2 separate regions of the Homo sapiens genome follow, and region 1 is linked to region 2. Evidence: fine-mapped expression QTL. Tissue or cell type: whole blood. Region 2 holds a variant in brackets; the other region holds the start of a gene. All regions are shown on one strand. Distances are from middle to middle.

The links. PIP is the estimated chance that this variant, and not a neighbour inherited with it, causes the effect. A credible set is the group of variants that fine-mapping cannot tell apart.
Region 1: it holds the start of THBS4, and the variant in region 2 is the best candidate, but not a certain one, in a credible set for the expression of THBS4 in whole blood (TOPMed, PIP 0.72).

The regions. Positions count from the first base shown.
Region 1 is chr5:80,033,721-80,037,999 of GRCh38, reverse strand. It overlaps THBS4 (thrombospondin 4), which reads right to left and starts at 2,652. Exons shown (of 22, transcript NM_003248.6): 1 at 2,375-2,652. The coding sequence starts at 2,462.
Region 2 is chr5:80,124,941-80,129,082 of GRCh38, reverse strand. It overlaps a transcript of SERINC5 not described here. Among named protein-coding and RNA genes, the nearest start is that of THBS4-AS1, 43 kb to the right of the region's middle. The variant G/A (reference allele first, on the strand shown) is at 1,913.

The DNA of each region.
Region 1 (4,279 bases), 91 kb after region 2:
ACATGTACCAGGGGTCCTTACACAATAATGAAATTAACATGAGATGTGTTGGAAAGCAGAACATTTACTGTGCTCCTCTTAGTGCCTATATCCCTAAACCATAAACACTGTTGCCTACTGCATTTCAAAAGGGAAATTGGATTTTTTAATTTTCAAGAGAATTGGAAACTTTACATTTCCACTAATGAGGGCAAAGGGAAATAAGGCAATATGTTTTAAAGTTCCATTCAGGACAAAACATCTTCAGAAAAGAGATATGTATTTAAAGTATGGGAACTACATTCAAAACAAAATTCTTAGTACTCTTGATTCTTCCTTTGACTATGATCAGGTTCATGATGTAACTCAAGCTAAACTTGCGGTATTTCAATCTATGGTTCGTCTGATTCATTTGCATCTCTCTCAAGCGGCAGAGATGGGATTAGTTAGTAATGAACATAGAGAGTGTTTTGAAAAGGAAATGAGACACTACCATTTTCTATTAATGTTATTACGTTTAAGTGCCAGGATCAAAGCACAACCCTCTACTGTTAGAGGTGAAATTACTGCTACCAATGAGCGCAGCTACCATGGTATGTAAATTGAATATATACTAATTTAAGACCAACAATGAAGCTCAGGGGAAGAAGGAGATAATCAAATTATCCTGTTAAGCCTGATAATTGCAGACTAGATAATGCAATAAAAGAATCTATCAGAAACTTAACTTAATCAGATCATCTACAGCAACTAAATTACCCAGATAATTTAGGTTGTATAGGCCGAGTTCAAATCTCCATAAAATGGTCAGGTATGTCTGAGACATACCTAAGGCACACCATAAAGCTGTATGTTCAAAAGTCAAGAACGTATATAACACAAAAAAATTATACCTATAAATTTGAACTTGCCAAATATCATCACAATAAGACTTTTGAAGTGTTTAAAAGCTTCCTTTTTTACCTTCCTAGAAGTATGGGGCACGGACTACAGCATTTCAAATACTTCAACACAAACTAAAAGTTAGCAGTACTCTAACCCCTGAAACCACAGTTCTGGTTGTCTGGTCTGGAATGAAAATGAGTTATTTGGCGAAATGCAGTTTAAATGGGTGATTCCAGCAGCGAGAGGCAGGGAAGTTGAGAACGCCCTCATAGGCAGTCTTTGCTCTGGCTACAAGAGGAAAAACAACTTTTACTTCAAGTTGTGCGTCTCTTCCAGTTTTACTTCCACAGTCAGTAATAAATCAACCCAGGCACCAAGTTCAAACAGATGAAGCTCACGCCTGACCAGTTAGGGCCAGTTATAGCCCTAAGATCTTTCTTTGCTTAAATCATGTCTTCCTTTTGGTCTTTACAAAAAATTCTGTTTAACTGCTTTCTACCCAATGGCTATTTCACCCCATTTCACCAAGGGGTTTGAGGATTGTCCAAGTATCTTTTCACATTATTTGTTGAATTTTTACCGTTTCATAGAAAAAGATCAATTTCTTTCTTTTTTCTTTTTAAATTATAGATTCAGAGGGTACATGTGCAAGTTTGTTACATGGGTGCATTGCATAAGGTGGGATTTGAGCTTCTAGTGAACACATCACCCAGTGAACGTAGTACCCAATTGGTAGTTTTCCCAACCTTCCCCCCTACTTTTGGAGTCCCCAGTGTCTACTGTTTCCATCTTTATGTCCATATCTATCCACTGCTTAGCTCCCGCTTGTGAGAACATGGTATTTGCTTTTCTGTTCCTGCCTTAATCCACTTAGGAAAATGGCCTCCAGCTGCATCCATCTTGCTGCAAAGAACTGATTTCATTGAAAAAGACCAGTTTCTCAGCCCTTCCTATTTACCTCAGAAATTAAGACATCAAGCCAATCCTTGAAATAAACTTTCTTTTTGTCGTTCAAGCAAAGTCAGAGCAGAAAATGCAGGTGGCAGGGCAAGTAGAGTAATTCTGCGTCTTTCTCAGGGATGTCAAGAGCAGACTCTGGGCATACATCGCTCCGCCTGAGGAAGGATTTAGGGAGCAAGGCTGCCTGGAGGGAACCGGCACAGGGTGCAGGACCCGGAATTCACCCTACACCAGAGCCTAACATGTTAAGAGGTCTAGGACCGTGTAGCAAGTTTTGAAGGCAACCCCACCCCACATCTTTGCATAGTCTGAAACAATTTTGCATCCCCCAACTATTTAGGCAATTGTTCTCATCATTGGATAATCGAATTTCGGAAAATTCTAGACTAATCACTACCTCCAATCACAATATGCTTTGATTGGGCCCGGGAGGGACAGAGAGGGGCTGAGCAAGGCCACAGGAGCACAGGGCCGAGCAAGTCCCTCCACTCACTCAGCAGATGGGGCACCCGGTGCCCGGCGCTCCCAGGCCCGACCCGAACCCACTTACCCTGGGGGGTGGCCTGGGCGCCTGCCGCTAGCCACCGCTGCAGGACCAGGTGCAGCAGGAGGACGGCGGCTCCGCGCGGGGCCAGCATGTTGGCTCTTCCTGCTCCCCGCGAGGCCGGGGGCGACGGCGGCGTTGGCCCCGCCTGGGGGTCCCCGGGCCGTGCGTTGAACCTCGGTCGGCGCCCGGGCCGGCGCCGCAGGTGACCCGTGCTCGGCGTCCGGGCTGCCGTCGGGGGCGCGCTCGCGTCCCCGCCGTGCGGTGCTGGGGAGCTGGCTGCTGGGCTCCGCGGCAGCGGCCGGGCGCTTTATGGTGCGGCCGGGCGGGGGAGGGCCGGGGCGGGGGCGGCCCCCTTGGCGGGATCCCCTGTCCTGGGAAGAGCTGGGCAGCTGGAGCAGCGAGCCGGGGCCGCAGGGAGAAAGGCGCGGGTGTGAGGATGGGAAGGAGCCTGGACGGACCAGGTCCTGGGGTGGGTGTAGACACGGCCCCGACGCGCGAGGGTAGGGGCGAAGATGGGCAGTCGGGGCTGGAGAGAAAGGGGTGCTGAGCAGAGACCACAGGGGAGAAAGGAGCGGGAGGAAAGGGGCGAAAGGGAGGAAGAAAGTGACACTGACCCACTAGCTTTGGGCACCTTCAGTCCCCTACTCCTTGCGCTCCTTTTGTTTTCTAAAAAGAAGAATATCCTTTGGATCGGCTTTGAATGCCCACCTTGGGTTCCCTTGCGAATGAATCCTGAAGTTCTCCAGGAACGCTCTGCCTCCTAAAGTGGCCCAGAGAGCAGCGAGTTTCTTTTATTTCTTCAAGCTTTTCTTGAATACTTGAAAGGCTGAATTTTTTTCTCTATCATTTTGAGACACAGTGAAAGTTTGAAAGTTGTTGTGTTTTTAATGGAGATAAAACACATCTCAAGGAATCCATCCAGACAGAGCCATTTCTAGGCTGGTGAATCTGTGCTTTATGGATAATTCGTTTTCAGTATGGTTTCCAAACGCCCTGCTTGCCCACCTCTATTCCTCTGTCACCAAAGATTCCGTGTGACAGTTTAAAGGTACGGGAGTAGAACTTGAAAGAGATCGGAGGAACGCAAGTAATTCGTCCTTTTCCTGGGCAAAGCTCCCGGAATGATATGGATTAACTAGAGGAAAAAATATTTGATAAACAGTGGCAAAAATTTCTCCTCTGTAACAATCTCGACTAATGGAGAACATCCAGCAAAGTATTGCTATCTCTTTTATGTCTCAAATAATTCCATTTCAAAGTTTAATAAGCCACAAACTGGGAGATTAATGCACCATTTTATCCCCAAACTGTGCTAAAATAACCTGACACCAATTATCACTCAATTTACAGCTAGCGACTTGGAGATTTGTGAGCTATCTGCAGAGCTCTCTAATATGTAAGGTCCAATACAGGTCTATCCAGGGTTCCTTTAATGCCACATTACACTACAGTCACTCTTTGGAATGGGGCATATGTCTACACATGAGAGAACACTGAGAGACACAGAGGATGTGCATAAATATCGACTAATGAGATAAACTAGATTTGGGAACATTCAAATCTCCAGACCATGTTCCCAGGAGTGGCCTGGGTTTGAGAGGAATCTAGGCTCCCAAGCTACGCTTCAAGCAGAACAGCCTTGCCTTTCTATGTTTTTACAGTAGACTTCAGAGATTAAGATTTTCTGTGAAGACAATATTTGGATGCTCAAAATTTTGAAAGCCACTATTCAGTGGTTCTCAGCTGATTGGGTATACCAGAATCTCCTGGGGAATTTAAAAAACAGTGATTAGGTGCCTACAGGGAACAAATGAAACCAAACATCAAAAGCAGCAATATGCTATATCACACCATAGACTACTCTGATACATAAAATAGGGTTACTCCTTAAATGAGTCACCAAGCAAG
Region 2 (4,142 bases):
TTAATTGATCCAAGAGTGGACTTTCCATCTAAGCTGGACAATCAGTGTCTTTCTGGAAATTTCTTCGAAATGGCTGCTGTCTTGAACCAAGGAGTTTGGAAACTTGAAAGATGTTGTTAGTGACTGTTTTAAGCATCACAGACATAGAAAGAAAGCCAATCTGCAGAAAGATATAGGATTAAAACAGCTGTGCAGAGGAGCAATTGTGGAAGAGAGGAGAGGGAGGGAAAGAGTAAGAATGAATGGACTTCCTGGATTTCCTTATAATGTTCCAGTCTGCAACTCTAATCCATTCTGGAGGCCCAGCATAATAAAATAATAATGATAGCCAATGTTTATTGAACACTTAATGTGTGCTTGGCATAATTCTCACAATGATCCTATGGATGTTACTGTTCTAATCCCCATTATGGCAATGGAATAAAGGCAAACTTTTCTTAAAATCCTTACTAATTTGCTTTCACAGAAACTGCCAGATCTCCCCTCTCTCCCCAGTTCCCTTTCCTGCCTCCTCTTTTCTTCACTGCCTCCCCTCCCCACAAGATCTTCCCCTTTAGGTCAATCTTTCCTTTCCATATGCAGTGCTTTCTCTGGGCTTCTTTATTTGTATAACCATTATATCAGTAAGGAATTGCATTTGACAAATGGACCACAGGGACTTAAAAACCTGGGATGTTGGTTCAGCAGCTCAAGGACGTCAGGTCAAAGATTACTGTGGATTTCTGGTTTCCCCTTGTGGCCCCAGCAGCTGCTTTGCCAATCCATCTAATCTGCATTCCAGCCAGAAGACCCTGAGGGCACTGGGCTCCCTGGAGAAAAATTCATTGCATGTTTTACGGCAGGAAATATCAAGATGAGTCTGGAAATATCTTCTTATTGCCAGAAAACAAACATACTTTCAAAGACCCTTGGAAGACAAGCTAAGTTATGTCTAGTCATAAATTTTATCTAGAAATAAGTTTTGTAACCATTATAGTATTTTGTGTATATTTTTCTGCTTTTTAAGGTAAGTAAAGAGACTGATTCATTAGACTCAAAATATTAGTAAAAATTTATAAGATGTTGATAACTAAGTTTGAAATAATGTTCAAATGTTTAAATTGTTAAATCTTTAAATTTATAATTTATTAAATTTGTAAGGTTAAACTTTTTAAGTTCAGTATGTTTTCAGTGTTTATTAAGATTTTGCCTATAGAAATGTGAGTCTGCTTTGTTGTTTTTTTCCTTGAGAAATCAATTAAAATTAGATTGTAGTTTGAAATGTCTAAAACTTAATTCTGAAAGTTTGATAAATATTTGGGAGTACCTTATCAAATTTACAAGCCAGTTGGGCATTCATCAAAACCAAATAAAAGTAGATAATAAAATATTAACAAAACTGATTTATAAATTAACACAAGTTTAAAGTCTTCAAAATTAAGTTTTAAAACATATAATTTAAATATATAAAATATAAGTTGAAATTAAAGGGAGTATTTATTTCAATGCATAAAGGCTCTCTTCAGACATAAAGAAAACTCAGATGACATTTTGGAGGTAGGTGGTATCAGTCAGTGTCGGCTAAGTTATGCTGTGGTAACAAGCAACTCCAAAACCCTCAGTGGCTTACAATGACTAAAGTTCAGTTCTTGCTCACATTGTGGGCTACCGGTAGCTTTGCTCTAAGTTTTCCATCCTGGGACCAGCAGTCTGTATTTGGGATATTGCTGGTTTCATGGAAGAGAGAACGAACATAGTAGAACCATATGATGAATCAGAGCTTCTGCTTCGAAGTGGCACACATCACTTCTGTTATCATTGCATTGGTCAAAGCAAGTCTCATGGCCACTCTTGAGGTCAAGGAGATGAGAATATGTAATCCTCCCACAAGAAGGGACACCTCAAACCACATCTCTAAGGCTGATGCAATGAA[G/A]TGGGGAAGTATTATCTTCCCCAGGGTGGGGCAGCAAATATTTTGAGTAATAAAATCTACTGTAATGGGGAATAGGAGGTTTTTAAAAAATTCTTACAACTTAGTTTTTTCCCTGTCACATAGGCTGTCAGTATATCCTAACTTACAGAAGTGATTGTGATTGTGTCTGGGTGTTGGAATTATGGTGATTTTAATCTTCTTCTTTGAAAGTTTTTGATGATGAGTATATATTTATTTTGTAGACAAATTAACAATTTTTAATTAAAAATTTAAATTATACCAGGCTTGGTATCGCATGCCTGTAATCCTATCACTTTGGGAGGTCAAGGTGGGAAGATCACTTGAGCTTAGGAGTTTGAGGCCAGCCTGGGCAACATAGTGAGACCCTGTCTCCATTTTTATATAAACAAATAAGCAAAAATTTTGATGAAAAATTTTTTTGTAACCAAATTAAAATTTATGAATTTCATTTGTACAAAAAAGGCAGTGGATAACTAACTTGTTTTTAATATTGGAATGGTAGTATGTGCAGAACAGTGTTTTAGAAAAATACATCTCACAACATTGAAGAAGAAAATGTATGTTGGAGATTTTGTGTTTTAGATATATCTCAACCTGTCAGCTTTGAAAGAATGTGGCTATGAAATGGAGTGTGTTTGTTAAAGAAATAAGTAAATCAGTAAGTGAATGTTGGTTAGTTGGGTGGAGAAAGGCTTAGAAGCATCTAGCACTAAAAGATATATTCTTTTGTGGTTATCTGGCTGATGTCATGAAATTCTGACTTATACCACCAGGGAAGCTTACATTTCTCTTTGGCAGGGAACTTCAAATTTAGTACAGTTTGGACCTCACTGCATAGTCATAGTAAAAACTTTTGTACTTAATTGACTCTTCGTTTGCTTCTGGTTTTATAGTGGCCTTCCTGATGAACCAGCTTTTTATAATCCAAATTGGATCTGTGCCTACTTAATTGTTTCTGTCCCAATTCTACTTGGTGGTCAAGACTGAATCAGATTTTCGGTTCCTCCTTCTCCTCTCGTTTTGACTTTCCAGTGTATTCAACTGAATTTTCATCATAATGACTCCAAAGTACTCTTCTCTTCCTTTGTCTTGTGGTCACAAGAAAAATCACAAGATCACATTGATGGATGACTCATGAGCTCCTCATCTTTCTGATAGAGTCTCTGAACTGAACCAGCGTGAGTCTAGGTTTGCAGGAAGGCTTTTGATTCAGCCTTGTGATTCTCATGAATAGATGGCAATAGAATTAATTTCTCTCTCGATCTTGCTTTTCTTTTTCAACTAATAACTTTATTTACATCTATTTTCCTCCCTACCCAACCCACTGCATGTCCTTTTCTTGACCCAGGTGATGACGTTTCTTAAACCAGTTTGCTCTTCTCCGTATCCAAAGCTGCTCTCGTAGGTCACCATTATAACTCCACAGTTAATGCAGCAACTGCCCAGCTGAGTCTTCCCATCATCGGACGTCCCCAATCCATTCCAGCCATGGTGAGCTTTCAATAATGCAAATCAAGTCTTCAAGGTCATTCCTGTGTAGAAAGCCCATTGCCTTCTTCATATACTTACGGCTTTCAAGTTCCTTCATATCTAGTCTCTGTTCCCCTTTCTAGCCTACCTCCCAGTACTCTCACTCCAATATAGCTCATGTCAAACAGATACTACTTTTGGTTTCCTGAAATGCCTTTCCTTGACAGTGAACCTTGCTTCTGCCTGAAACACTCTCTCTTTCCCTATTTCTATCAAGCTCCCTGATTTTCAAGGTTCATTTCGGGCAGCATGCCCTCTAGGAAGCATTTCTTGGCAGCCTGATCCTCTGCCCAGCCTCTCATCTGATTTAGGCCATAGATTGAGCATAACATGTTTCACAGTATTGTAATTGTTCGTTTATGTGGTGGTATCTCCTCACATTGAGGGTAGAGATTGTGGTTTTGGTTTTTGTGTTTGTTTTATCATTGTATACCTAGCACCTAGCATAAGGTTGTGATGTACAATTGTTTGCTATATGAATGAATGAATGGATGGATGCCTTCACAAGAAAAATCGCTCACTAGACCATGTTGGTCAGTAGCAGGTACTGGGAGGCACAGAGTCAAGAGTCTAGCACGTGACACATGACAACTGTCTCACTGTGCCATCAGGAATGGAGTGGACCCCTATTGGGATGTCCATCCCCCTACCTTTTTTGGTTGGAACCATCCCTCTTCTC